Linked DNA regions of Homo sapiens. The protein of the gene in region 2 purifies or fractionates together with the protein of the main gene of each other region. This does not show direct contact. Each region holds a gene or a part of one and is shown on either strand. Other genes may lie near its edges. The genes, in order: SIPA1L1, TRIM67, CORO1A and KIF1A.

Region 1 (7,021 bases), on a different chromosome or scaffold from region 2:
CAAGAAAGATAAGACATGCAAATCTTATGTCACATTGTTAATAAATATCTTAATATACAGTACTTTTCTTCAGAAAGTACTGCAAAAGAAAATGTAAGAAATAAAGGATCTCTACTTACCCTTCTGGTAGAAAAATTTTCTATAATAGTATGCACCCAGATCTACGTGTTCCACGATGTATCTTTTCACTCTATCTAGGTGCAACACCAAGTTCTCCTTGGGCACTTCAAGTACTGCCACTCCTGCATTTGTGCAATGGGAACTAAGGGTAGACTCAAAGGAGGCACTTTCACATCCACTAAAGGAGCCAGAATTTGATTTTGAAAGGCTGATTTTCCTCTCCCCTTCTCCACCTATCTCATTCCGAAAATATGGACAGCTCATTACAAGCTCATTGCTTTTATCATCTCCCTGGTCCATGCTGAGGCTTCCTTTGGAATTCAGGTCCTCTGTGCTGCCCATTGGGGAGCTAAAACTGGCTGAATGAGACAGAGGTCCAGAGACCAAGGATGCCACGGCAGCTGCGGAAGCTCCAGTGGTGGTGTTTCTCCTCTTAATAACATTGTGCCTGTTCATAATTGCCTCATTCAAATCAAATAATATACTCTGGACATCATAGTGGGCAAAGCACTTTGGACATGTCCAGGGCCTGACAGAGTCTTCTGATCGGTTATCTTCAAGATCTGATGACTTCCCAAGTTCTTCACCTTTGGCATTGCGCAATTTACGAAAAATAGATGAGTCTCCAGTTTCAGATTTTGAACGTCGCTTGAGTGGTTTTTCCCTTTCCTTAAAAAGCCTGAGGTTCTCTCTCTGTGAGATAGGCCCGTCTATTACATCCAAAGAGAAACCAGAACCCTTGCCACCACCAGTAATGAGAAAGTCACTGAGCTTGGTTGGAGTTGGACCTCGATCAGATTTGTCATCTTTGTAGCCCTTTAACAAATCAAAAAAGCTTTCTCCAGATGTTCCCTGTTTATCAATTGAAGATGTGCTACCATATTCCCTGTGCAGTGATGGTCCAGTCTTGTATGTAGGTGAGATACATTCATCAAAGCTATCCACATCAAGTTCACTTATGGTGATATCACTGTTGCTTCGCTGGCGTATTCTGCGAAGAGCTTTTCTGGGGGAGCTGGGGTAGGCTTCAGGCATGAGAAATCTGGAGTCCATGTTCTCCGACGGTCTTGTCTTGTTTTTCAGCGTGTTCTGTATGCTTTTCAGCATGGCTGAGTCATTGGAATTGAGGCTAACAGAACTTCCCTGACTCACAGGACTGCTTTTGGAGGACAGGCTATCAAGGCAACTTGAGGTTTCTATTTCCTGGCTTGAACGGCTAGATTCTTTTATGTTTTCCTTTCTTGGGGGCCAATCTGCAATCCTTGCCCTTACCCCCATTTTTGGGACTCCGGGGGTTGAGGTTATATGGTGAGAACCTTCACTTCGGGGGGGTCCTACAGGAGCCATAACTGATGATCCTAAGCTGCCATTTTGGGACCGGAAGCGCCGCATGTAGAAATCATCAGTGTGGACTTTGGGGGTGCCGTCTGTGCCAACAACAGAGGCCCTGTCAGTGGCAAGAGGCCTTTCTGTCTGTGACCGTTTCAAGCTGGTCATGATGTAAAAGCAAGTAGACTTAAATCCCTGCAGCAAGGACCATCATATCTGTGTTTTAAATGTGCACTTCCCTTTTGGAGAATGGCTTCCAGAAAATACAACAGTTGCATGAGATCTTAATCTTTTTCATTTAAAAGGTTAAATGATGCTTTATTTGTAAAGCACTGAAAAATTGGAACTTCTAAACGTTATAATCCACAACAGTTTCTTTGCTTCACTTTAACAGAGGGCTTTCTTTCAGAAAAAACTGAATGGAACTTGTACTACTGAGATTCTGTGGTTGCCATAATCCCATGCTTTCTCTAAAAGAGAAAAGGATAATTTGAATTAGCAGATAAATACATCTAAAAACAAACATGCAATTGTCAAAACCAGACACATGAAGATAAAAGACTCAATAATGGATTAGGATTCACAGTTCCACAATCCGTATTTTTAGTAAAGCAGGTTTGAAAGAAAGGAAGAAAGTAAAAACCATTTGATAAAATCCATAATTTATATTCTAAAAAAAAAAACTATTAAGACTTCATCTTAATTGAACTGTTTCATAAAATGGGGGGCAGGGGGAGGGGTACATCTTGTTCTGGATATCATGGCTCCTACCCAAAGTACAGACTTTTGCTCCAATGACCTCTAAAAATGTAGAACATCATGAGCTACTGTGATGACCAGAAGTTTGAGATGTAACCAAGTGAATAAGATAATTAGAGCAACAGAGTTTTTTGACAAAAGTAAAAACTGAAAAATGACTTTACTGAATATGCTGCAACAATCACTTTTTAACTCCTCTATTCCAAAATCAATACATGTTTTTTGTTTCCTTACAAAGGCTTAACATAGTTGGCAAAAACAAATACAGCAGGAAAAAATAAATAAAAAGAGTTTTCCCAGAGCCATTATATCCATTAGCACTCTTTTGTATTTTCCTCTACTTTATTACTTACCGAGACGAGGATATTGCAGAATGAATCCAGCATTCACCACCACCTCTTCCCAAGCTCTCCTTAGTTTCTTGTACTCTTAAAAGCTAGAAGTATCTCACTAATGAACAAAATGCCTGCATTTCCTCATGCAGTACAACCTACTCCACCCCATCAGTGCTAATTTATGAAGACGGCAGAAACAAAACACAGCTCTGGGTGGCCCTCTCCATATCCCCAACAGATTACAGAGAACTGTTAGCATCCTTCCAGGTGACGGGCATGGAAACAAACTTCCTCATGAGCACGTCAGGCAGAAGGCAGGAGACACAGATTCTGAGTACAAAATTCTGCATGGTTGCGTACATTCTGAAAAGAAAGGCAGAGGCTCCTTTTCCAAGACTCCACAAATTACACAAGAGGTGGCCTTTAAATTCTTGCCAAATACATGTTTGGAAAGATGCTGCTGAACCAGCACTGAGCTGACAGGGCGGCATTGTCTACAAATCACGGCTCTGACACCGGAGGACGACCTGCACTTGCTGCACTCTCCACTCAATGGTAACAAGCACCTACTTCCACGATAATTAAGCATCTCCCTAGTCGGCTTCCTGCCTCCAAGGCAGGCGCTTTCATTTCTCTTGCAGCACACAGCATCACTTTAGAAGACTCGCTGCTATTTAAAGGCTGGAACATGTAGGGGTGTTTCAAAAAAAAAAAAAAAAAATGCATGCTGCCTGCAGAATGCAGGGTGAGGCGAGCTCTGGCTGGGCTCGTGCTGGCTGAGTCTGTGGAGCCATTCAGATAAATGCCATTTGTTTTCACTAGCACTCCTCTTCACCATCTTTTGTAAAAGGGATAATAGTTTTGCACTGCTACCTAATTAAACATGGCTTTTGAGCTTTCTAGATACTTCTACTGTCAGACTGCTATTATTCCCTTTACATTCCAGAACTTTACATGTTCCTCTTTCAATGATAACCCTTCAAGTGACAAAACATGCTAACTGTTGCTTCCGAGGATATCAAAGGACAGCATATATGGCCATAGCAAAGGTTCAAGAAGTGATTCTCATAAAATGGAAGGAAAATTGAACAACTGAACCAAAATGCAAACACCTGTTCAACATCTCCCCAAAAGCTGATTATTTCAATGAATACTCTACATAGCATAAATAATACTTCTAAAGTAGATTTTATAAAAATTAGATGCTTTCAACATTTCTCACAACCTCACAGAAATCCAAATAAATCATCTTTCATTCCCCAAACATTCATTCTCTAAAAGGACAACACACCAATCCCACCATGATAAAAACTCTTGCCACATTTCATGTGCCTTAGAAAATACTTTACTGCACAGCTGTCTTTCCCAGGATATGTGAAGTTATTTCCATTAGAGGAGGAAACTAAAAGCTGGCAGTAAAATACAAGAAATAAAACTGACTTGGAAATGCTCAGTCTCCACCATCAGTATTTCTCTTCCAAACCATCTCATATACTTCCAATATTTTTAATGAGTTTATAAAATCTTATTTTTAAATATAAAAATTTCTTACCAATTCAAAAGAAATTTCAAGACTCCCATTACATTATATAACAACGACTCAATGTTTTCTTTTCATTTCAAAATATAAATAAGCACATGGGAGAGAGAGAAGCCACGTTTTAATGGCTTGTAAAAACTGATGAGGTTCGAGATGGGCAATTATGTTAAATAACAGATTTTTTTTCAGTCATAAGGACCTTCCTTTTCTATGTTTTTTTTTTCTCCCTCTCATTTTCCATCTCCCTCCCTCCCTCCCTCCCTTTTCTCATTCTTATTTATAGCATCAAACCCCTTTGGGGTACAATATAAACTTTGGGCACTGACTAGCATATATGGAAATATACATGCTTTGCACTTATTAAACTACCAGTCAAAAATAATGCTGTCCATCGATGTGTATCATATGATGACAGATCAATAATACCTTCACATCTATTCCTTAGGGTTGACTGAAACAGCAAACCTATGTTGACAATGATCAGCAACTCTCTTAAATATCAGCAAACCTGCCTAAGTACCAATATGGTAAAAAGCAATAGAATTAAACAGAAGAGCAATACGAATTCACAGCATGTCACCTCCATCTGTTGAAAGAGCAGGCTATATAAAAATTTTCCTTATTACATGTTTAATTTTACAGCTCTAGATACTATCTAAGTCTATGGTAGATCCAGGTAGCTAGAATACTAATTCCATCTAGAGGGCCCACAGTTTAGTTCAATGAGTTCAATTCAACTAGTTGAAAGTCTTTTCATCACTCAAGATCTCTCACAACCTAACCCACCATTCTTCCAGAAGAAATGCTTCCTCCTCTCATCCAAATCACCCCCTGTGTTTCTGTAGTGTCTTCAGAGCATGGACCATACATCCACCAGTCCCTCCTTCAAGGAAAGCTCCAGGTGTAGCAGGGAGACACAGACAAGTAAGAAGATGACGGGGGATGCATGGGTCATGCCTCCTTCCTATACACTTTCCATTTTGATTGTAAGCTCTTTAATAACAGAGCTTACAATCTCCTGCTGGGACTAATTGTACCACAGTAGGTCAGCCATTTAGAATATCAAGTCCCTGAGAATGCTGAAAGCAGAACCTCTTATGGGATCTCTTGATTGCCAAAAATCCCTTGTCATTCTGGCTCTGTGAAGCATCTGTACTCCTGAACCCATCCTCCATCCTGAACCTCTCTTTTCTGGACCTCTGTGATAACCATGTGCTTCTTCATTTTCTCTTGCCTCTTTTTGCCCACTACTCAGTCTTTAGTTGGGGTCCATTGAAAAGGTGGTGTCTATGGTTTATCTCTCTTGACATTTTTCATATTTCTGGAAAGGGGTATAAAAGGTATTTCTATCAGGATGCATGTGAGCACTGAGTGTATTAGGATGAGACAGAAGCATGGGTCCACTGGAGTAATAATATCACTGTGGAAAGCAGAGTGTTGATTGGGCTGGCTCACATTTGTCTGTGCAGCTGAACAAAGGCAGAATAATTAAGTTACTGGCTGGAAATCTGCATGGCAACCAGTACTCTGTCTGTTGATACTGTAGGTGCCTGCAGCTTTAAATATCATCTCTATGCTGTTACCTCCAAATCTCTGGTCATGATCTTCTCCACTAAACTTCAGATAAAATAGAGGTAGGTGCTCATTTGACATCTTCTTTATTTACCTATTTTACAATGAAATAACCAACAAGCAGAATAATGAAAAAAATTTTTTTTCAAGAAATGATTAAGTGGTAAGGAAGGGAGCACATTCTATTCCTAATTCAAGGAATAGAATGAAAGAAACAACATCGTGCCAAGGGCATAAAGAGCAGTTTAAAGGTTACAAGAAGAAGATGTGGGAAGGGGGTGGGGTTGGGGGAACACTACAGTTCCTGTTGTGAAAGAATTACAGTGCAATATGGTAGGGTCACCAGAAAGATGTAGCGTTCCTCATAAAATACTTCCACATTCCAAAATGAGATCTTCTCAGATTCTTTAACTGGTACAGCCTAAAATACAACGCCAGCTCTCAATGTTTCAGGGCAGTAGAAGGAACTGTGCTGATGAATAACTATTCAAATGCCCCAATAATTCAGAGATATACACTTCAGAAGTATTTATGAAAATTTCCAGGCCCAGCACAGTGCCTTGTGCCTGTAATCCCAGCACTTTAGAAGGCCAAGGCAGGCAGATGGCTTGAGCCCAAGAATTTGAGACCAGCCTAGGTAACATGGTAATACCCAGGCTCTTAAACAAACAACAAAAAAATAGAAATAGTTTTTGAACTTGTAAACACAGACTTAGAATGCCTGTAAATATTCTTACTTCAGAATGTAATAAAACACTATTTAAAAACAGAAATATAACTTCACAGTACTTGAATATTAGATGAGCTAAGATAATCAAATAAGGCAAACTATTTTCTTTACATCCCTTCTTGGCTTTCCTGAATTCCACTCACATTACATAAAAGTTGCATCTCAGACAGAAGGGATGGCTCACTCTTTCAAGTTAGCCTGAAACACATCTTAGTGCAATGTCATGGATAATTTAAGATTTATGAATCAGCGTAAAACTTTTTAGAATGGAATTTCTACCTCCTTTCATTTCTGTATTCTCCCTTCAACAAAAAGCAGGAAGAGTTGAGAAAAACAGTTGATAAATCTAGTTCCTGCTCTCCTAATGTTCACTCTCTGAAAGAGACAACACTGATGGAAACAAAGTCGAGTCAAAAAAACTTTTGGTAAAATTAACAAAGTGAATAGAAAAGTTATAGATACAAAACATGTAACATGATAAAGCTGTATTTGAATTTAGAGATAAGAAAGCAACTTAAAATGTGCCTGTTTGGACACAGGAAGGATCAAAAAGGAAAATCACATTTCCCTCCCACTCACCCTCGTAGCTAAAAAAGTTCAGTGAAGAAAGTTACGCTTCTAAGGTTTTGTTAAGCT
Region 2 (7,754 bases):
ATTGGACACAGTTGAGAACTACTGCTCTAGAACTAGGGATTTGACTGCATATTTATCTTTTTTTCATATGTATTATGCAAATTCTCCTCTTAAAGGTGGATTCCTAAAGTGTTTCATGTTTGTTTTTTCTAATTTGTTATTCTAAAATGTTAAATTATAATAACAACGTATGCTCATTATAGCAGATAATACTATAGAGTAACTATATATGAACAACAAATCTATATAGGAATGGTTAGTCTCTTAGTCTCTTCCTCTCATCTGTGCTCACCTTTTTGCTTATTTCCAGTTGGATAGCCTTGGCCAATTACTTTATTTTCCTCCTCAATTCAAATATATATTTCTGGCTGGGCTGTGTGGAGACCTCTTGCCTCTGCGGTGACTGTTTACTGGTAAGACTACAAGGAATAATTGGTGTCTGAAGTTCCAGAGGCGGTTAGGGGTCCTTCCCACAAGATTCTAACTCTGCCAGGCCTAGTTCATTGACCTCTGGGGAAGTGAGTCCAATTGCTCATCTTTGGCATTTGGATGGGAAATTTAGGTGAATGTTAGAAAAACCAACTCTAGTCTTGACTTGGGGTCTGATCAAGGACCTAACCAGATTTTGATGGCTCCTCTCTTTCTCGCAGTATCAGATACAAGGACACATTGCCAGCCATAAGTTGCTGAGGGTGGCAGAGGGGAAAAGGAGATCCTGCATGCCTTAACTCAAAAGGGACCATCAAGGTAACTTATTAGTCAGACGTTGGGAGTAAAAGAGCCCTGTGTCTGCGTTTTGGGTGCCCTGTGCCTACATAAATCCTAAAACCTCGGGTGGGTGGGGACCTAATAAGTCATCTTTCCATACCCTTCCCATCTCCAGCATCCAGTCCAAAGTACCGGGAGTCCCTTACCTGTTTGTCAAATGACTATCTGATGGAATGAATGGCTAATGAGTGAGGTAATTCCTGCCTGACCCTCTGACCGACTTTCTGTCAGCTCTCCAAGGGAGAGGCCAAAAGCCTTTCTCCTCGTACCCTCTTCCCTGGCACCTGCACTCCCGCGTCCCGCGGGCTCACCTTGTGCTGCTTCCACATGGCCCCCAGCGGCTTCACCTCGTGCTTGGCGTGCCGGCCCTCCTCCAGGCACAGATAACACACCGGGGTTCGACAGCTCACGCAGTACATGCTGTAGTTCTCCATTTCATGCTCGGGACACGTGGGGAACTTGCGGGCCGTGCTGCCCCCAGTCGCCCCCGCCCCCGCGCCTCCCGGGCTCTTGCAGCCGCCGCCTCCGCTGGGGGCGCCCTGGGCGGTGCCAGTGGGCCCGGAGGCTGCCTCGGCGGGCGGCGGCGGCGGCGGCGGCGGCTGCACCAGGCGATGCTTGGCGAAGGGTCCCCGGGATGGATGGCACTTGAGCTGGCAGGCAGAGCAGTAGAGGACGTCGCACTGCTCGCAGAGCGTGGCTGCTGGCTCTGGCGGGGTGCGGTCGCACAGCTGGCAGATGGCCACCGCCGCGGCTGCAGACGTCCCCGGCACGGCCCCGCGGCCCTGCTGGTACCGCTGCACGATGGCCTCGAGCAGCCGGTTGCGCTGGAAGCCGCGCAGGCCGCGGTGGTCCAGGGATGCGCTGCGGTGGCACTGCGGGCACGTGATGGAGCTCGAAGACGAGGACAGCGAGGAGCAGGCGGCACCCCGAGCCGCCGCAGCCGAGGAGCCGGGTGGTGCGGGCACCATGGGCAGCACGCGAACCCCGTTGGGGGACTTGAGGCTCGGGGTGTAGGACCCGTAGCCGCTGTCTGTCTCGCTGTACAAGCTGAGCTTGTCCGCGTGGTCTCCGCCACCTCCCGCACCGCCGCCGAGGCCGCCAGCTGCACTCCCGCCTGCACCGCCGCAGGCCGGGCCAGCCGCAGCGTCGTGCTCCAGAGAGGCAGCGGCGGCGGCGCCCGCCTGCAGCCCCGATCCCCGGGAAAGCAGGAGCGGCTGGGGCAGGTGCTGCTCACCGTCCGGGGTCTGCACCGCGATGGTGCGAGCGCAAGGCAGGCAGACATTGTGGGAACAGGGCAGGATGATAGGCTCCCGAAACAGAGAGCCGCACACGGGACACTTCAGCTCTTCCTCCATCGCGGCGCCGGCTGCCAGCGCTGCTCTGCGCTGGGGATGAATGGCCGGAGCTCGGGAGACTGGCGGAGGAGGACCAGCGCGGTGCGCCCCGGTGAGACGACGGGCGGGGGCATCACACGGGCATGCCCACTTCACAGCCGAGGGGCACGCCCCTCTCTCTGTCCTGTAGCCACCGCCCTAAGATGATTGAGGGGCGAGAGAAGGGAGGGGGTCCTCACCTCCTGCCCGAGGGTCCCGCACCAGCGGCTTCAACCTGCGGCCAGATTCCGGAGCCGGTCGGCTGCCCTCGCGGTGGCCTGCGAGGAGCTTTAGGTGATGAATCAGCACCAGCGCCGCCGCCGGCTGCAGCGCGCGCCTCCTCTCCACCCCAGGACCAGCGGCCGGGCTGCTGTGCGCTCGCTGCTTCAGCCCCTGGCTCCGGTGGGCGGCTACCCCGAGGCCCCCCTTCTGCCCCGGCCCAACTCCTTATCGGGGTGATAGCGAGGTGAGACAGGCAGGTGCGAAGGCCGCTCAGCCGTGGGGCTGGGATCAGCACCACGAGGCGGCGGACAGCGCCCGGGAGCCGAAGGTGGGGCTCCAGCTGCCTGCTCGCCGACCCCTGGGCCGCCACCCGCCGGGTCGCTGGGGCCGCGGCCACCTCGGCGGGACCCGACCGGCCCGGAGACAGCCGCTCACCCTACTCCTGGGCGGCTGTGGACGCCGGCTGACTGCGCCCTGGGGCTTTCTCCCTGCGGCCGGGATTGACCCGCTTCCCTGGTTCCCAGCTGCTGCTCCTGCGGCGCCTCTGACCTTGGGCCGCGCGACGCTGCAGCCGGCGGGCGGAGGGCGAGCGTCCGGCTGGCTCGGGAATCCCCTCCCCGCCTCCCTCCCGCCGCTGCCGCTGCCTCCCCGCGCGGCGCGCCGAGGAGTTGTAATTTCCAGAGCAGAGAGTAATGGGGAGGAGGGGGGAGGAGGCTTCAGCTCAGCGAATAAGGGCTCGCCTCTTGCTGCTAGGGAATCAAGGGGCAATTTTAAGGGTTTTGCAGGGAGGATCATTGTTAATAACAATCCATTATTTGGATGGAGATTGTATCTTGAATCAGTACAACGACCTGCCCCGCCCCGCCCCTGCCATCGTCTCCCTGGGCCACTCCAGTTCCACACCCCACCCCCAACCCACCGCCATAGAAGGGTGAAAACGGGATCCTAAAAAGCCAGTCGTTTAGAAATGGATAGGCAACATGGCCTGACAGTCGCTTCCTAAAACTACGATAAAGCAAAAAAATCCAAGTCCCAAAATGTCGGGCAGCCTGAAGTCCAAGGGTGAGGTTTTATTTATGAATTGAACCACAAGCCATTTTGTCTCTTCCTTTCAACCAAGGGTGCTCATCCGCGCTCCAGGTCAACTGTGTGCACGGACTGAGAGAGGACACGCGGTGCCGCTCACAAAATGGGGTTTCCTGAGAAAGGCGAGAGCGCGCCCGGGTAGACCCCTGGGAACCCAGCGCCCCCAGACCCAGCCCTACCCCGCTGCGGATGTGGCGGTGTGCGGCGGACGGGAAGGCGGCAAGCGGAGACGTTCCTTTTATGAATGGGAAAATCTCCACATTCTCCAACGCCAGCCACGAGCTGCGGGAACAGCCTCCCACCCGCGGCCCCGGCTGTTTGGTCTGCTCGGCTGTTCTTCCCCGCTGCTGCCGAGGGAAGGCTGGGTGGGGGAGGCAGAGGTGGGTGGGGACGAGCAGAAGAAAGTGCTGGCAGCGCAGCCGGCTCTGCCTACAGAAGTTTCACGCTGGCATGAAACAGATACAAATTAGGAAATCGTTTATTTAACAACGATATGAATATTGAAGTCATGCCTCCCTCCGTCCCAGGTTCTCCCGTGCTCCAAACAAAGACTAAAGACCGGAGTCGTAGCGCCAGGCGCGGGCCCAGGCTTCTGCTAGTCCCCGGGTGAGGAGGCGCAGGCTGGCGGGGTCAGGCAGGGGGAAGCTGCAGCCTGCGCCCAGGGCTTGGGGCTCTGTGCCTAGGGGACAGGAACCCCTGCAGGGGGACCCTTGGGGAGGCGCTTGGCGACGCGCTCCTGGCCGCAGCACGAAGGCCCAGAGCCTTGGAAGTCAGGACGCCCCGGGACCACTGGCCCCACTCAGCAGCTCGCTTAGGCTTTCCCTCGCTCGGATCCTGAAATGCCAAATGAATATTGTCATAATACTCATGTCTGAGAACTAAACGAGCTAGTTGCAAATACAGACGGCGTTTCCTACTTTCTGTTTTTGTTGTGGGGGCGGCGGTTGGAGTCTCTCTGGGTCGCCCAGGCTGGAGTGCAGTGGCGTGATCATAGCTCACTACAGCCTCGAACTCCTGGACTCAAGCAATCCTCCTACCTCAGCCTCCCAAGTAGCTGGGACTACAGGCCTGTGCCACCACGCCAGGCTCTGTTTTAAAATCCTATGAACCTTTAGTCCGGCTTTGCAGCTTGCTTCCAGTTTGTGCCAAAGTTGAAGAGTAGGCCAAGCTAAGGCCAGATAGAGCATCGCACAGCATTAAGAGACCTGACTCTACTTCCCCTCAGCTAGGGGACTTGGAACAATTATTTAACCAGGCATCAGTAGCCACAGATGGGAGATGGTAACAACCTTGTCCTCATCTGCCTTGTGTAGATAAAGCCACAATGAGCTGGATCCTGCCTGCAACTCTCAGATAAGCCTTCCAGAAATGTGCTATGGAATCTTCAGGGTCATGTCAGAAACGCAGTGTATGGGTAGGTCTGTAATTGAATGCACTTAAAGATGCATTTCTGTGACCCTAGCAAGTGCCATCATTTACGCCGGCTCAGCCCAGCCTCCTGGTGACCACAAGGGAAGTCATAACCTCTTATGGTTCTACTGTGAACAGGTCTGCCCCAAACCAGCAGCCATATGGCTGAAGTCCAGTCTCCTTTGTCATTTTCGGACCAAAACAAACTGCTTGGGGGTAGGGGTGGCCTCCTGGAGGGGTGTGTAACTCCTTTCCTGTACAGAAGGACTTACAGTTCAAGCACTCCTCCACTCAGACTGAGTGTAGTTTTGTTTTCCACGGGGAGGAGGTGATCTAGTACATCAGAATTCTACACCTATGCATTTCTCATGCACTCTTGTCACCTAAATAACAAAGAGACAGGCTCTCTAAAAGAAGAGAGGTTTATTTGGGAAAAAAGTACCGCAATGGAAAGATGCTTGCCATAGTAAACTCTGTGTGTATTCAGGGAGGTAACAGAAGACAGAGGTTTTTAAGGGAAAAAAATGAGGAAGATTGAATAATTGTTTTGAAATAATTACCCTTGGCTACAAATATCAATAACAGGGGTGATGCCAGCTCAAGGCTGGACAGGTAGTTGCTGGGCAGATGTCCTGATAGAAGTATTTTTTGGTGTAGGGTTATGATGGCCTCTCTGCAAGATTGTAGGTTTTGGAGTCTTTTGTAGTCATTTTTGTTACGAGGTATTTATGCACGAAAACTCTCCCTTCATGGCTCTGTCAGGGCTTTTTTTCTTTTTTTCTTTCTTTCTTTTTTTTTTTTTTTAACATTAGTGACTCCATTTGGATTCTGACAGCTTTCACTCTCAATCCCCACCACCTCAATTCTACAACATAAATCAGCTTATCCGTGCACTGTACTTTTGCTAAAACATTGTGCATTTGGGGGATTAGCATCCTACCACTCCTTTGTCTGAACTGAAGTTACAAAGCTGGCTTCAATGCTTCACTGTATATAATCATAATTGCTAACAATCGTCAACATTATTTATAAAAAGTCCTCTTTCTGTCTCAACTGTGCCATGAACCATATGCATATAGAGAAGTCATTTTAGTTCTCTGAACCTCTGTTTCTCCCTATTATAAACTTTGGGGATAAAATTCACTGAAATTTAAATTTCCTTCTGGGGCCGGGTGCGATGGCTCAAGCCTGTAATCCCAGCACTTTGGGAGGTCGAGGCGGCTGGATCACAAGGTCAGGAGTTCGAGACCAGCCTGACCAATATGGTGAAACCCTGTCTGTACTAAAAATACAGAAATTTGGCCAGGTGCAGTGGCTCACGCCTGTAATCCTAGCACTTTGAGAGGCCGAGGTGGGCAGATCAAGAGGTCAAGAGATCAAGACCATCCTGGCTAACACAGTGAAACCCCATCTCTACTAAAAATACAAAAAATTAGCCAGGTGTGGTGGCGGGCACCTGTAGTCCCAGCTACTCGGGAGGCTGAGACAGAAGAATGGTGTGAACCTAGGAGGTGGAGCTTGCAGTGAGCCAAGATCGCGCCACTGCACTCCACCCTGGGCGACAGAGGGAGACTCCGCCTCAAAAAACAAAACAAAACAAAACAAACAAACGAACAAAACACACAAAAATTATCCAGACATGGTGGCAGGTGCCTGTAGTCCCAGCTACTCAGGAGGCTGCGGCAGGAGAATTGCTCGAACCTGGGAGGTGGAGGTTGCAGTGAGGCAAGATGTTGCCACTGCACTCCAGCCTGGGCAACAGAGCAACACTCTGTCTCAGAAAAAAAAAAAATTCCTTCTGGTTCTACAGTCTCTGTGTATTAGCTGTTGTTGAGAATGACATATCCCTTGGCTGGATGTCGTGGCTCATGCCTGTAATCCAAGCACTCTGGAAGGCCGAGGCGGGTGGATCACTTGAGGTCAGGAGTTCAAGACCAGCTTGGCCAGCATGGCGAAACCCTGTCTCTACTAAAAATAGAAAAATTAGACAGGCATGGTGGCACAAGCTCCCAGCTACTTGGGAGGCGAAGGCACGAGAATTGCTTAACCCCAGGGGGCAGAGGTTGCAGTGAGCCAAGATTGTGCTACTGCACTCCAGCCTGGGTGACAGAGTGAGACCCTGTCTAAACAAAAAAAACAAAAAACGAATAACATAGTCCCCCCTTTAAAAAATGACACTCACAAAAAAATTTGATCCCCAAATTGAATGACATATCTATTTTTTTTCAAGTCCCTAATATATTATTAAAGGCTGGGCTGTGGGGTGGGTGAGGCAAGTAATAATATTTGCATTGTAACACTTAACAGTGTGGAATGAGAACCTTTTTTAATTTTCAGAACATCTCTGGGAATTAGGCATCACCACATTTCCTCAATTTTAATATGTATAAATGTTTACATTTTAATGTTGCTGAAATTAAAAAGTATACTACAATTGATACATACTTCTGCTCTCCCTACTGTTGCTTTGAAAATTTCCTATTAAATTGATGGTGCATCTTATCATCACTTGGCCTCATGGAAAGTACATTAGTAATTAAAACTCCACAATCTACTGCTATCAAGGCAGAGAAAAACAGACTCTGCCATGAGTTACTTTGGATAATGTACTGCAGGATGGTTTTTACACTTAAGTGTCCCAGAAACACTCAAGAGGCTGAGTAATGTAACCTCTCCTCAAAAAAAAAAAAAGCACAAATCAGTTAAATAATTTACTCCAGCTAACACAGCAAGTTAGAAGTAAATCATCTGCATTCCTTTCAGAATGCTTCGAATTTCAAGCATGAAGCAGAATGGAATTGAAGGCTTTATCAGCTAAAATCAGATGCTGTAATCTCAAGTGTAAGAATCTCTAAAACAAATTTTAAATGAAAGCTTATGATATTTTTTCTTTTAGTTTTTTGGGTTTTTTTTTTT
Region 3 (7,340 bases), on a different chromosome or scaffold from region 2:
GTCCAGTCTAAAGGCACAGCAGGGCCTTGGAGGTGCTTTTGCCTCCCAAACCCAATCCAACCTCCCCACACCTCCTTCAGAGAGGCCCAGAGAGGAAAGCTGTGGTGTCCCTGGGAGCTGGACCAGGGCCTGGGGTGGGGACGGGGGCGGGTTGTTCTTCTCTTGTTCCAGTCCCAAAATGGCCTGGGCAAACCCCAGGAGGGCTGGCCACGCATGGCAGAGGTTGGGGGCCGTGCAAGACCCTGGCAGAGTTCCCGCCGGTCTCTGTCTCAGTCTGTCTCTGCCCTTAGGGTTGGCACCCCCACCCCAGCTTCCCCGAGTGAGGCTTCCATGGGCACAACTGGCCCTGGAGCCAGGACAGGTGTATGGGGGCTGGGGGGGTGGAGGCAGCTCCCCAGAGAGCGAGTGTGAGTGGTGGGGCTGCAGGGGTGGGTCCTCCCAAAAGGAGAGGGGCCAGGGAGCCTGTCCCAACTGGCCCCAGGCAGGAGCAGAGGTTTGGAAATGGCTTCTTCCGGGGACAGCTGCTTCAGCAGGGCTTCCTGTGTGACAGCCATGTGGGGCGCGGGCCCAGCTCTCACCCCGACAACCACTTCCTCTTCTCTTTGCTTCCATCAGCCCTTTTAAGGTAACAACTTGGGGCCCATCTCCCCTTCCTGTCTTACCCCCCAAAGAGCACAGGAGTGTGCTGGGGGTGCGGGGCAGCAGCCAGCCAGCGGAGGGGGCAGCAGGCTCCAGGGGAGGGCAGGGCTGCGGGTGGGGGAGAGCACCTCTTGCATCATCCCTGCCTGCGAGCTGGGGGACAGAGTTGCTAGGTCCTCAGACAGGCCCAGAGCCAGAGTCCCTCCCAACCCTGAGAACGCTGCCAGGGCCCCCAGACCCCATCCCAACCCCCTCTGTGTTTCCATGGGGAGAAAGCCCCAGGCTGAGGCTCAGGAGGGCTGATCATGGGTCTGCAGGACTGTCTGTAGTCCTGGTCACTGGTGTGACCCATCTTGTGTTGGCTCCTTCTGAGCGTCAGTTTCCACACAGCCACAGCACAGAGGAGCTGGAGGAAGTGTAAGGCTCATGGGGCCCAGCTCAGTTTTCCAGATGGCAACACAGGCCCTGGAAGGCCTGGTGACCGTCACCTAATCAGGACCTGCACAGAGCCATGGGTCCGGTGGAGGAGCTGCTCCCCCCAGGGCCCCAGGGGCTCACCTTGCCCAGGGGCAGCACCAGGAAGGCCCCTCCCCCGCTGGCCTCACAGATCAGGGCCACAAACTTAGGGTTGACAGCACAGAAGCCACTGTCCCAGGTGGTCTGTGAGACGCGCACATCTTCATAGCACTGGTCGGCCTTGGCCGGCTGTCCAAACACGTGGCGGAACTTGCTGGAGCGGACCACCTGCCGGCTCATTCTGGGGGCACACAGCATAAGAGCATTTCTCCCTTCAGGTCAACTCTGATCTTCCAGTGGTCCCCACCTCCCCCAGGACACCCCTCAGTCTGGCTTTTAAGGTCCCAGCATCATCTCCAGGGGCTCCCTATTCTTCCCTCTGTGGCTGATGCCTGCTTGCCTTCCCCAGCCTCTCCTTCCCTCTAACCTGCAAGCCCCCTTCTCCCTGGCCCCAGGCCACTCTGAGCCACCCTCTCAATCTGTACCCTCAGCCTCTGCAACAGAGCCTGGCGTGGTGTTGCCCCACTGCATGTTTGTTGACTGACTGGCTGATGGATGCAGAGCCCGTCCTTCCTAATGGTTCAGACTCAGGCGTCATCAGCCCAGATGGCTCCGAGGGTGGGTTCTCTCTTAGTTACCGTGTCCAGAGCCCACCTCCCTCACACCCACACAGCGCTTCCTAAAGGCAGGGACAGGAGCTGGCCTCCCTCGCCTGCTGGCATGGGGCTGGACACAGGAGGAAGTGGCGTGGGGGCTGCCTGAGGGGAGTGAGGCGGCAGGATAGCTTCCCCAGCAGGTCTCTGGCTCAGGTCCAGGTATCTCCTCCTCCCCATACCTCTGCCTCTCGCCTCCGCTCAGAAAAGCAGGTGCCCTTAAGAGCCATCTCCACCCCCATGTAAACTGCACACAGGAAGGGAGAGGCCACTCCGACTGCTCTGAGGTCCAGGTAGGATGGTTTCCCCCAGTGTCTGGGTGGGGAGCAAGGAACTCCAGGGGCGACCTTGTGCCACCGCATCACCTTCCTGCTCAGGGAAGGGGCCTGTGCTGCCGCTTGGAGGGTGCCATGCCCAGAGCCTCTGCCCCTAGCCTCAGCCTCGCCTACTCACTGGGGGCTCCAGCACCCCCGGCCACCCCAGGACTCCCGAAGAGGCTGCTAGGTCGGCCTGCCCAAAGAGCGGTGAGGAGCGTATGTGAAGAGCCCCAGTCTTGAGGAGCAGCCTGTATCTGGAGAGAGGGGAGCCCCGGACCAGAGGTGGGGGACAGGAAGCCATCGCCCCACCCTGCCTCCTCCCCCACCACAGGTACCAGGCCCGGAAACCACGGAAAGGGGAACTTGGTCTTTTCTTGTTTTGCTCTCAACCCCTTCCTGTCTCCAAGCCCAGGGCAGCTGCCCCGCTCACCCCACCCTGCCCTCGTCCCCACCCTCCCCGAGACTCAATTCCGTGGGGAGTCGGGCCCTCGACACTGTGCTGACCCCCGGCCACCCACCTCCATCTTGGCCGCGGTGGTCCCTAGCCCTCGCCTCCGCAGAGCGCTCTGGGGCCCCGGCGGCCCCCACTCCAAGCAGCGTCCCCCCACGGGCTGCTGCGCCCGCTACCTGGCCCCGGCGCTGGCTGGGTCGCGGTGACAGCCGCGCGCCCCCGCAGCCCGCGGCTCCCACGCGCGCGCCGCCCCACAGGTGGCCCTCGCCCCGGCCCACCCGCGCCTCCCAGGCCCAGCCTCACCTGCTGCCGAGAGAGGACAGTGATCCCCCAAAAGCCGGAGGTGGAGGAGGAGGAGGAAGAGGAGGAAGGAGCTGGAGGAGCCGGGGACTCGCCCGCTGAAGATGCTCTTGTCAAGACAATGAATGAGAAGCAGCCGTGCGCCCGCCTCCGGGGTGGCCGCGCCCCTTGGGGCGGAGCTCTTCCAGGCCCGCCCTGCGCTCCCGGGCTCCCGCTGCGGCCGCCTCTCTCCCCGGCCCCTGCCCGTGCACCACGTTGGTCCCCAACCATAGCGCAGGCTGCCATCCCGGCTCCGGGAAGCGAATCTAAACTTCTTTTTAAAATGTCAAAACGCAAGAGCACCCCATTGCTTCTTTCCTCCCTGCGTCCGCCCCCAGCCTCCTCGCCAGCCTTTCCCTGGCAGGCACGAAAGCGCCCCAGGCCCGCCCGCCAGGCCTCGGTGCCCGCCCCGGCCCGGCTGCGCCGCCCCTTCCTCCCGGCCCCGCAGACGCGAGCGCAGGGGGCGCGGGGGGCGCGGGGGGCGCGAGGGGCGCGGGGGGCGCGGGCGAGGAGGAGCCCCGAGCGCGCTCCTGGACCCCCGGGACCTGGCTCTTGCCTGGCTCTGAGATCTAAGCATGGGTGGCCCCGGGAGTCGCTTCTCCTCCCTGGATCTCCTGGCTTCATCGGGAACACCCCTGCCCTCCTGCTGAAATAATCCGGCATCACGGGCACCTACTTCGTGCCAGGGGCTACAGGGTCGAGCAAGGCAGGCAAGCCAGGCAGGTTTCCGCCCCTGAAGAGCCCAGCCTGGGGGAAGGAGGAGGAGCCCACGGCCGCTCCAAGCCCTGGCTTTGGCGAAGGCTCGAGGGCAAGGAGGAATAGTTCCCACCCTTGGATTCAGAGAGGCTTCTGGAGGCAGCAACAGCGGGCAGGAAAGGCCTGCTCTAGAGTCAGACTATGTCATGAGTGCGACCGCAGCCTGTCACCTGCTGAGTGAGGTGTGGCCGCTACTTAGCCTTTCTCAGCCTCGGTTTCTCCCTCTGTAACAGTCATACCTGCCACGTAAGAGGTATGGGGATGATTACCTAAAATAACCCAAGGAAGTCAGTAAGGACCTCATCTAGAAAGTGGCGGGTGCTTAATAAACGTTAGCTCTCAGCCATGCGTAGTGACTCACGCCTGTAATCCCAGCACTTTGGGAGGCCAAGGCTGGCGGATCACCTGAGGTCAGGAGTTCGAGACCAGCCTGGCCAACATGGTAAAACCGCATCTCTACTAAAAATACAAAAATTAGCGTGGTGTAGTGATGCACCCCTGTAATCCCAGCTACTGAGGAGGCTAAGGCATGAGAATAGCTTGAACCCTGGAGGCAGAGGCTGCAGTGAGCCAAGATTGAGCCACTGTTATCACCCAGTCTTCTCTGGGTGAAAGAGCAAGACCGTCTCATTTTAAAAAAAGTTAGCTCTCATCATTCTTGTTTAAAAAGTATCTGGGCTGGGCCTGAAAGGATTAGGAAGAGCCAACAGGCAAGGCTAGAGGGGTGACCTGTAGGCTGAGGGACAGCCCTGTCGTGTGGAGAAGTTCAAGGAACAGCAAGGGACGGGTTCAAGTCCCACCTCTGCCACTGACTGGCTGTGCGATCTTGGCCAAGAGGGCTAATCTCTCTGAACCTCATTTTGTCATTGGTAAATGGGGAATTAATAAGATTTGAACTGCCCACCTCACAAAGTTATGAGGCTCTGGCCGGGCGCAGTGCCTCACGCCTGTAATCCCAGCACTTTGGGAGGCCAAGGCGGGCAGATCACGAGGTCAGGAGATGGAGACCATCCTGGCTAACATGGTGAAACCCCCTCTCTACTAAAAATACAAAAAATTAGCCAGGCATGGTGGCAGGCGCCTGTAGTCCCAGCTACTTGGGAGGCTGAGGCAGGAGAATGGTGTGAACCCAGGAGGCGGAGGTTGCAGTGAGCCGAGATCGTGGCACTACACTCCAGCCTGGGTGACAGAGCGAGACTCCATCTCAAAAAAAAAAAAAAAAAAAAATTACCCGGGCATGGTGGTGCATGCTTGTAATCCCAACTACTCTGGAGGCTGAGGCAGGAGAATTGCTTGAACCTGGGAGGCGGAGGTTGCAGTGAGCTGAGATGGCACTATTGCACTCCAGCCTGGGCAACAAGAGTGAAACTCCGTCTCAAAAAAAAAAAAATTAGCTGGGCATGGTGGTGTGCGCCTGTAGTCCCAGCTACTCGGGAGGCTGAGGCAGAAGAATCGCCTGAACCCAGGAGGCAGAGGTTGCAGTGAGCCAAGACTGTGCCATTGCACTCCAGCCTGGGCAACAGAGTAAGACTCCATCTCAACAACAACAAAAAAGTTACTAGGCTCAAATGAGACAATAAATCTGTAAATCTTTTATAGATTATTCAATTGTAAAAACCTTAGGGCTGTACTGTACTCAAAGGCCTGCGACTGGACGGGACTAGACCGAGATAAGGTGGGTACTCTGATGTGCCGTCTCCCACAGAAGTGACAGGAATAATAACTGGCTTTTATTGAGTGCCTACTATGTGCTGGGCACTGTTCTAGACACTATACTATGTTCATGTAATCCTCATAGCACCCCTGGGTAGCAAATACTATCTCCATTTTACAGATGCAGAAACTGAAGCACACACTGCCTTCAGCTCTGGAGGGCCTCATGTCCACCCACAGGACGAGGGCATTGGTGAAGGACCTGAAAACTAGGCTCCTGAAGGTGGCGAGCCTGACGGCCCTGGAGAGGGCAAGGTGCAGGCAGACAGTGCTGCTTTCAGAGGCCAAGTGGGCTGCAGCAGGGGAAGGGGTGGGCAGCCTTGGGGCTGCCACAAAGGTCAGGGGCAAGGCTGGTGGGTGGAGGTTCTGGGAAGCAGATGTCCATGCAGCATAAGAATTAGTTACAGCAGTGAGTGGGGAAGGCCCTGGCAAGGCTCTCCATGTTTGAGAGGGGGACAACCTTTTCAAAGGGTGTCCTTATAAGGGATGTCAGAGGGCATTTGCCCAGGAGCGGCGAGAATCACTTGAGCCTAGGAGTTTGAGACCAGTGTGGGCAGCATAGCAAGACCCCATCTCTTAAAAAAAAAAAAAATGAAATTAGCCAGCTGTGGTGGCATGTGCCTGTGTTCTCAGCTGCTTAGGAGGCTGAAGTGGGAGGTTCGCTTGAGCCCAGGAGTTCCAGGCTAACAGTGAGCTATGATTGCACCACTGCACTCCAGCCTGGGTGACAGAGGGAGACCCAGTTTCAATTAAAAGAAAAAAAAGGGGGACCTTTGCCTCTCTTGTTCCTGCTGGTTTAGCTCTTACCATTGCCTCTCTCTTTTTTTTTTTTTTTTTTTTTTTGAGACAGGGTCTCCCTCTGGCTGGGGTGCAATGGCACGATCACAGCTCACTGCAGCCTCAACCTCCCACGCTCAAGCGATCCTCCCATCCATCCTCAGAGCCTCCCGAGTACCTGGGACCAGAGGCACATGCCCAACACACCTAGCTAATTTTTTAAATTGTTGGTAGAGACGGGATCTCACTATGTGGCCTAGGTGGGTCTCGACCTCCTGGGCTCAAGCAATCCTCCTGCCTCAGCCTCCCAAAGTGGTGCAATTACAGGCATGAGCCACCGTGCCTGGTCCCGTCGCCTCTTTATTGGATTTTCTTTTGGGGAACCAACCTCTCCTCACAGGCACTCCATGAGGTTCAGGAGGGGACCTGGCGTATTCACATGGCCTGTGCTTCCCAACCAAAGCAACCTGTTTTCATTGGCTCAGGGATGGGCACTTGATTCATCTTGTGCCCAAGACTCACCTTGGAGCTGCTGTGAAAAAGATGCCCTCTCTCCACTGGGAGTTAGGAAGCTGATAGGATGTAAGCCCAGCACTGCTGGTGATATCTTGTTGGTATGCAGGAAAAGCTGGTCAGAGCAAGGTGCAGTGGCTCACGCCTGTAATCCCAGCACTTTGGGAGGCCGAGGCAGGCAGATCACCTGAGGCCAGGAGTTTGAGACCAGCCTGGCCAACATGGCAAAACCTGTCTCCACTAAAAATATAAAAAGTAGCCAGGCATGGTGGTGTGCACCTGTAGTCTCAGTTGCTTGGGAAGCTGAGGCAGGAGAATAGTTTGAACTGAGGAGGTGGGAGTTTTGGTAACCCGAGATCACGCCAGCCTGGACGACAGAGCAAGACTCTGTCTCAAAAAAAAAAAAACAAAAAACAAAAACAAAAAAAACAGCAAAAAGCTGGCTAGGATGGGTCTACACAGAGGCCTGAAGAGGCCAGATATGAAGAGACATATTCTTGAGATCATTTGAGTGTCTGGATCAAGCTGTGCCTGAAACCCTTAACTTTCCTGTTGTATAAGGCAATGCACTTCTTTTTCACGTAAGCCAAGAAGTATGAGTTGGATTCCTGGCACTTGCAGCTGAAAAAGTTCTGATTACACCTACCCTGGAGGGAGACAGGACCA
Region 4 (7,021 bases), on a different chromosome or scaffold from region 2:
GAAGGCAGAGAGAGCTGCTCGCTGGGGCCCTCGGTGGGGGCAGCGACTGACTCGGGCACTCACCATCTACCACCCAGAGCTGGGACGCAGCAGTGCCAACCACCTCCCCAGCCAGAAAGTGGGTCGAGGCATCGAAGGGCACCTGGCAGAACCCCAACCCAGCAGGCCGGAGACCAGACCACCAAGCCAGCTCTGGGCCTCAGTTTCCCCACCATAAAATGGAAAAACTTAAAGAAATAAGCTAAAGTTGCTGAAGGCTGTCACACTGTACCCAGTGACCACGAGTTCCCCACCTGGGCCTTGGCTCTGACCCCACCCACTCCCCTGTGCTCTGTGCTGGTTCCCAGCCTAGGCATGTGGGTCACAGGGCCCTGCCTGACCTCCCAGCATGGAGCTGTCCCTCCATGTGGGTCAGGGGCAGCCTGCCTGAACCTCCAGTATGGGCATCAGGCAACCTGTCTGTCTCCCCAAGTATGAGGGTCCCTGTGCCCCCAGTATGGGGAGCAGGGTGGCCTGCCTGTCCCCTGTCAGCACAGAGCTGGTGGCGGTGCTTTCCAGGGAGGCCCCACACACCTGACTCGGATCTCCTGGATGTCAGGGACCAGCAGGCGCTGGGGCTCCTTGTCTGTCTCTGTTGCCCGGGCAGGGGAAGGGAGCTTCTTGGAGTCGGCCTCTGGCAGCAGCTCGGGCTCTGGGCTGGCTGGCCGGGAGCAGGGCTGCGGGGTCCTGGGAAGCAGAGGGAAGTGCTGCCCACTGCAGGCCTCCCTGGGCCTGGGGCCGTCTTCCCCCAGGCTTCACCCTCCTCAGAGCACCTCAGAAGGTGCAGTAGGGCACCTTCGCAGGGTCTCTCCAGCTGTGCCCACAGTGGGAGCTCCCGGGGCCCGTCCACCAGGATAGCCAAGCTTGTGCCCGATTCCAGGAAGTGCTGGGCTTGGTGGGCAGGGTCCCCCAGGAACCTCGGGGCCCAGCCAGGGAGCCTGTGCCCCACTCCACGCCCTTCTCCCAGTGGCTCTCCTGCCCCCACCTCCACCCTGTGAAAGCAAGTCCAGCATCTCTTCATCTCCACAACTAGACTGAAGGTGACACGAGGTTCCAAGGAGCCACTGGAGCAGAGGGTGCCGATGGCCTCCCGCATGGGCCCCCCACATGGGCCAGGCCCCACGCGACTCGACCTGGTGGTCAAGGAGGCCTGCAGAAGACAAGGCCAGCTGATGCCACCGTCTTTCTTATTTAAATGAAAATCTGGAACCCTTAAGGCGCTTAAAACAAGAGTGAAAAGCATCTGCCTGCTTATGAATTGTACATAAGGGGTTCACACGAGGTCTCTTCCAAATGCGGACCTGCAGGGGCCAGGTGTCCCCTCCACAATACTGACTCTAACGGCTCTCATGCCCTCTTTCGTAACCTTTTCTTTTTCCATTATTTTATAAGCACTGTCTCAGGAAAGGGGAGCTTTAGCTTATTTTCCACCCATTTCTGGTCTTCTTCAGGGAAGAGAACACACACACACTAGGATGGAGCTGGCGGGGCACAGGCACCCTCTGAGAGGGCTGCGGACTCCACTCCTCCAGGCCCTTCCCTCAGCCTGTGGCCACCCCAAGGCACTCGGCCATTGGGGCCCCCTGTTCTGTGCTCTCTGTGCCCGAGTCACGGCCATGGTCATGGGTCAGCCGTGGTGCCAGAAGCCACTCCGGGAGCCTGGAGCTCACTCACCTCAGGTCAGTGGCACCGTACCGCCCTTCAACCAGAGAGGGGCAAGTGGAGGAGGGGGTGAGAGTGGCCACCCCTAGAGGGGACATCGACGGGTCCCGGAGCAGGGTGACAGACATCTCGGAGAGCTGCGGAGGAGAGGCCTTTTTCAGGGGACACAGGGAAGGGGGGTCTCCGGCCTCTGTGGGAGCTGCTCCCTGTGCCTGCGCTTACCCCACACCTGCTGCTTAGGGCACCCCACCCCTCCTACCAGCAGCCTTGGCTCAAAGTTGGCCAGCTCAAGACCCCCGGCCCCCTCCAGCCCCTGTGGCCCCTGGCCGGCCCCTCCCATCACTTCAGGCTCTGGCCTGACCCAGGCAGCCACCCTGCCAATGCCTCGAGGAGTGGGCTGGGTAAGCTCTGCCCTGCCGCCTCCTGCCCATGCCAGCGTGAGGTGGCGCTGGGTGATGCCATGGGGACAAGGAAGGCCATGGGCCAGGGCTGGAGCTCCACGCATAATGCAGCACAGCAGCAGTTTCCCAGGCTACAGGGGTGGGGTCGGTCCCAGGAGGAGGAGGGACAGCCAAGTGGGAGCTTGACTGACTGGGCCAGAGGCCACAGGGTGATGGCCAGACAGGGTGGGGGCCAGGAAGACAGCAGAAGCCTGCAAGTGCATGGGTGCATCCAAGGCCACAGGACCCACCCGGCCCCTCACTCACATCCCCACCTCCCATGGACCCCAGGCCGACCCAGGGAAACCAGCCACTTAGGTATGAGGTGTCCCTCTGCACTGAGACGTGTTCCTAGGAAACTCTTAACTGCCTTTTCCCACTTGGAATGGGAGTTTTCCTCAGGGACCACTGCCTATGGGAGCCCGAGCCCTGCGGGGCAGCCTGGTGCAGCCCCTCTGCACCCACCTTGCTCTCGCTGGCACTGACGCAGACGTGGCTGTGTGTGTACTCTCTGTTGAATGTGTGCGTGAGCAGGCGCAAGCACTGTGGACAGAGCACACGCGTGGTCAGGGGCCAGGCCTCCCGGGACCCTGCTCAGACAGCCTTGCAGGCTCTTCTACCCACCCCTCCCCAGACACAGGTGGGTTCCGACGCCAGAGCACAGTGGGTCAAGGTGGGCAGCACCTCCACCCCGCCCAGGTCATCGGGTGAGCCCAGGAAGTCTCCCAGGGTCAGGCACCGGCTGAGGGCCTGGTGTGAGGGCCAGAGGCTGTGCTGCCTCCAGTGCAGGAGGCGCAGGAAGCCTTCCCAGAGGCCCGTTCAGCCGCCAAAAGAGCCACTTGTGGGTGGAAGTGGTGAGCTCCCCATCAGCACAGGTATTCAAGAGAGTGATTCATCGCTTGGGAAGGGAGGCTGCAAAAGGCACCCAACTTTCAGTGCAGGTGGGGTGCAGTCAGTGGGCAAGGGGACCCTAGGGACCCCTCAAGCTCCTAGCTCCTGGTGGTGCTAACCAGAGCAGCCATGGGCAAGGCCGGGTTGCTGGAGTTGCCCAGAAATGACTCAGGGCCCTTGAGGGCCTGGGGCTACGGCTGTACTGCCCACCAGCTGGACCCACCTTGACGGCCAGCTCCCGCTGCCTCTCGTTGGGAGCCTCCAGGGGTGATGGGCGGCCCTCAGCCGAGAGCGGGGAGGAGGCGCTGGAGGAGCCATGGGACTCAGAGTCCTCGCTGAAGGCCGGGGACAGTGCCTCCGGGACAGGCCGCTGGGCGGTCTCCAGCTTCTCCCGCAGGAGCAGGTAGTGCCTAGTCTTCTCCACCTTCAGACAGGACACAAGGCCTTACCTGCTGCACCTCAGGGGTGACCTCCGGAGTTGTGCTCAGCCTCAGCAGCAGCATGACCCTCTGGGCAGACCCCGGAGAGCCCACCCTCCCCTGGGCTAAGACTGAAGACTGACAGCCCTCAGCTGTGAAATGAGGGAACAGACCCTGGCGCCCCGGGGCTGACAGCCCTCAGCCCCCACCCCAGCCCTGCCACCTTCATGGGCAGCAAGCAAGCTGCTCCTCTCAGACACATCCATCTCACGCGCCAGGTTCTGGGGCAGGGCTGTGCTGCCTTGCAGTGCTGGAGGCCTCAGGAGAGGGCCGAGGGGTGGGCAGAGCCCTGGCCTCACGCATCTCACACGTCACGCGTCACGTGTCACACACACACTCGGCCCGAGGCAGTGCCTAGATGCTGCATGTTGGTTTCCCTGATCAAAGCCGCAGAGGGCAGCCCAGCCCCGCGACTCTCCTTCCGGGTCCCTTTCTGGCCTCTGTCTATATGCCCGATAGTCTTCCTCGGCTAATTCCAGAGCATGCCTCTGTGCTACACTGGCCATGTTTCTGTCATACACCACGCAGCCCCGCAGTGCACACTGGAGCATCACATGCTCCTCCTGCAGGTGGCTGTGACTCCCAAGCAGCTGTGCTGCCCCCCAGTAGGCACCAGGCCCTGGGCCCTCTCCAGCTTTTGCTCTGCACACAAAGCCACATGGACACCACCGTGCGGGCCTCATCCTCTGAGGCTGCCTCACCTCCTGCAGGAGGCTCAGCTTCTCCAGCTCCCACTGGTGGTCCAGAATGAGACTGTCACTCCGGGGCCTCCAGCCTGCCAGGTTCTCCTCGCCCCGGACATAGGCCACAGATGTGTCCAGGACTCGTCGGCGCCGGCGCTGCATCCCTGCATGGGGCACGTGGACATTCCACCCCTACCTGATGGGTGGCTGCTCCTCCCACCCATCCTAGAGGTCCGCCCATCTGTGAAGCTGTCTCCCCTCTGGAGTGGAGATGGGCTTCCCCTGGTCCTTGGTCCACCCTGGGGCCCAAAGAGCCATGTAGGCCTCTTCCATAGGAAGTTATCCAGCCCGGCGTCCCATGGCCATCTCGGCTGTGCCCTGGGAACCCAAGGAAGCCAGCAGGCCTGACTCTCCTCCCTCGCTCTCCTCCCATCTCAGAACAACTCCAGAAGCCACAAGGTGAGTGCTTGGGTTCTGTGAGGGATCCCCCTGCAAATGGCAGCTTCGCTGTGGTCACCCCAAGTGGGCAGAGGTTGAGCAGGCCAGGAACCCACCCAGTGAGAGCAGGGCAGATACCTACCTGGGCTGCCCGCGTCAGCCACGTGGCACAGGCTGAGCTCGTACACACCAGTCACACGGTTACTGTGGGGAGTAGAAGGAGTGACATGCAGTCACCAGGCCCCGCAACAGGGACACACAGCCAGCCTGGCTGCTGACTTGCCCCACTATCAAACGCACAGTCAGCCTGGCTGGGGTGATGGGGTGTTGAGGTCCCTGAGCTACAGCCCCTGTTCAGAGTCCTCATCCCAGACTCCCTCCGGCCCCCAGAGAAAAGATGCATTGGCTGGTCTTGCTCAGGTGCCCATGGGGCTGTGACGTGAGGCCAGGCCCCCACAGCAGCCTCCACTTTGTCCCAGCCCAAGTGGGGTACAGGCAACATGAGCACAGCATCTGGCATCTCCAGTCCCTCCACGGCGTCGAGAGCCCCTCAGGCCCCATACCCCACAGAGCAGCCCCACTGTGCCCCGGACAGATTCTGAGAGCACCTCGGCCACCCTCCCACAGACAGGTCGGTGGCATCCCACAATTACTGAGTGACCTCCAGAATGACCACAGCCAGCCCTCAAGGACACTGGATCCTGACCCCCAAGCTCTTTCCTCCCAGCTGTGCCCAGTGTGAACCTGGACACCAGGTCCATGTGGCAGACCACAGGGAGACCCACTGAAGGTGGCCACGGGTGCCCGGTAGCCTCGGCAGCCCTGCTGTCAGGGCCCTGACATTCCGGCTCATTCTCCCCCACCCCCAAGAATCAGGAGCGTGTTCAGCACGCAAGCACGGCTGGTCCTGGTGTTCGGTGTGTGGCTCCCCAAGGTGCTGACAGCCTCCAAGAAGAGCCACCCAGCAGGTCCTGTGGGAAGCTGTGTCCAGAGCCCCCTTCCAGCCACCGCCCACTTATCCAGCTCCTCCTTCAGTGCCTTGTGGGCAGTCAGTCCCATGGCACAGGTTCCGTGGTCCTCAGGGAAGAAGGTCACCGGCGGCGGGGGGGGGGGGGGGGGAACGGTGTGGCCCCAGGATCACCCACAGGAGGCCCCAGGTGGGCACCCTGGGCCTGCCCCTCCTCCCATCCGCTGCAGGCTGGCCCTCAAGTCCCTCATAGTGGTGTCAGTGTCCCCTGCAGGAACCATGGCCTCCACAGAGTCTTCATCTAGGGTGAGCAGGAGGGGACTGAGCGCAGGGAGCCAGCCAGGAGTGTGGCTGGGCCTCGCACAGGGTGAGCTGCCGGGTGGCCCAAGGACCGCTGCCAGGCAGAGCCCTGCCTGGCCCGCACCGAGACCAGGGTGGGAGTCCATGTGGTCCTCACCCCTGGGAGCTTACCTCTCTGAGGCCCGAAGGCTCCCACTGCCAAAGAGGTTGCGGATGGAGCGCGAGGCTGGCAGCTTGGCATCACGGGAATAGAAGACCATGCAGAAGTCCTTGGTGACAACAGCCGGCTGGGTGCAGTTCTCCATCTGAGATAGGCGGGAGCAGGACTCAGGCACAAGGACACCCCGAGTGCCCAGGTGCCCTTCCAGCCTTCTCCTGGGGGCACAATGCCCAGCACCGACAGGCAGCCCCAGGGCCTTCCCAGGGCCTCAGGTGTGGCCTGGACGCAGGCAGGAGAAAGTCTCTGCTCCTGCCCTCGAGAAAACCCCACTGGGGACAGGTAGCCACAGCTCTGTCCACCCCTGGGCTGCCTGAGGGACTGGTCTCCATGTGTGGGGACCCCGAGGGTCCCAGACATAGGCTCACTGCTCGGGCCTCAGCTGCCTCACCATAAAATTGGGGTGACCCCTCCCCGACCCTGGAATGTCTGTGAGGATCAAACCAGGTCTTGTTTGAATGTGCACATTTTAACCCAAACACCACAGAAAATGACTTCCTGGTGGATGACACGCTAACTGCTGAACAGCTGGCCCCTTTGTCTTCCTGAAGTGGGGGCAGCTGCTGTGCATGGCTGAAGAGTCCCAAGCACTCGCTGGGAAGAGCTCTGCCAGCGCCTCCTCACGGCAACCTCACCACCATCTGGTGAGATGGTCACACCATCCCCATGTGAAGCTGGAATAATTCGGCTGTAACTAAGGAGAGGGGATGTGCTTGCAGATGCCCCTGCCCACTGCTCCCCACCCTCCCTCTCCCTCACTACTATGACCAGCAAGAAACGCCCACACTTCCAGTCACCTCTTGCACTTGGAAGGGAGGCCACAGCCCAGGTCTGGCCACGGCCTATGTACTGCAGACTCTGGGGGTGCTGTGGGGATGGAACACTTCTGTTTTTGTGCTGCCCGG

The links.
Region 1: the proteins of TRIM67 (region 2) and SIPA1L1 purify together in Homo sapiens (affinity purification with western blotting; 2 studies listed by BioGRID, with this or other methods). This does not show direct contact.
Region 3: the proteins of TRIM67 (region 2) and CORO1A purify together in Homo sapiens (affinity purification with western blotting; 2 studies listed by BioGRID, with this or other methods). This does not show direct contact.
Region 4: the proteins of TRIM67 (region 2) and KIF1A purify together in Homo sapiens (affinity purification with western blotting; 2 studies listed by BioGRID, with this or other methods). This does not show direct contact.

The regions. Positions count from the first base shown.
Region 1 is NC_000014.9:71,582,469-71,589,489, reverse strand, and holds part of SIPA1L1 (signal-induced proliferation-associated 1-like protein 1), read right to left. Parts: intron 3,193-7,021; exon of another isoform or gene 2,562-3,192; intron 1,920-2,561; 5' UTR 1,618-1,919; coding exon 120-1,617; intron 1-119.
Region 2 is NC_000001.11:231,157,318-231,165,071, reverse strand, and holds the start of TRIM67 (tripartite motif-containing protein 67), read right to left. Parts: upstream 3,015-7,754; 5' UTR 2,103-3,014; coding exon 1,059-2,102; intron 1-1,058.
Region 3 is NC_000016.10:30,179,265-30,186,604, reverse strand, and holds the start of CORO1A (coronin-1A), read right to left. Parts: upstream 3,004-7,340; 5' UTR 2,880-3,003; exon of another isoform or gene 2,834-2,879; intron 2,457-2,833; exon of another isoform or gene 2,186-2,456; intron 2,102-2,185; exon of another isoform or gene 1,817-2,101; intron 1,397-1,816; 5' UTR 1,396-1,396; coding exon 1,198-1,395; intron 8-1,197; coding exon 1-7. UniProt on the Homo sapiens protein: May be a crucial component of the cytoskeleton of highly motile cells, functioning both in the invagination of large pieces of plasma membrane, as well as in forming protrusions of the plasma membrane involved in cell locomotion.
Region 4 is NC_000002.12:240,719,201-240,726,221, forward strand, and holds part of KIF1A (kinesin-like protein KIF1A), read right to left. Parts: intron 6,205-7,021; coding exon 6,071-6,204; intron 4,837-6,070; coding exon 4,775-4,836; intron 4,359-4,774; coding exon 4,213-4,358; intron 3,457-4,212; coding exon 3,256-3,456; intron 2,685-3,255; coding exon 2,607-2,684; intron 1,839-2,606; coding exon 1,714-1,838; intron 727-1,713; coding exon 574-726; intron 1-573.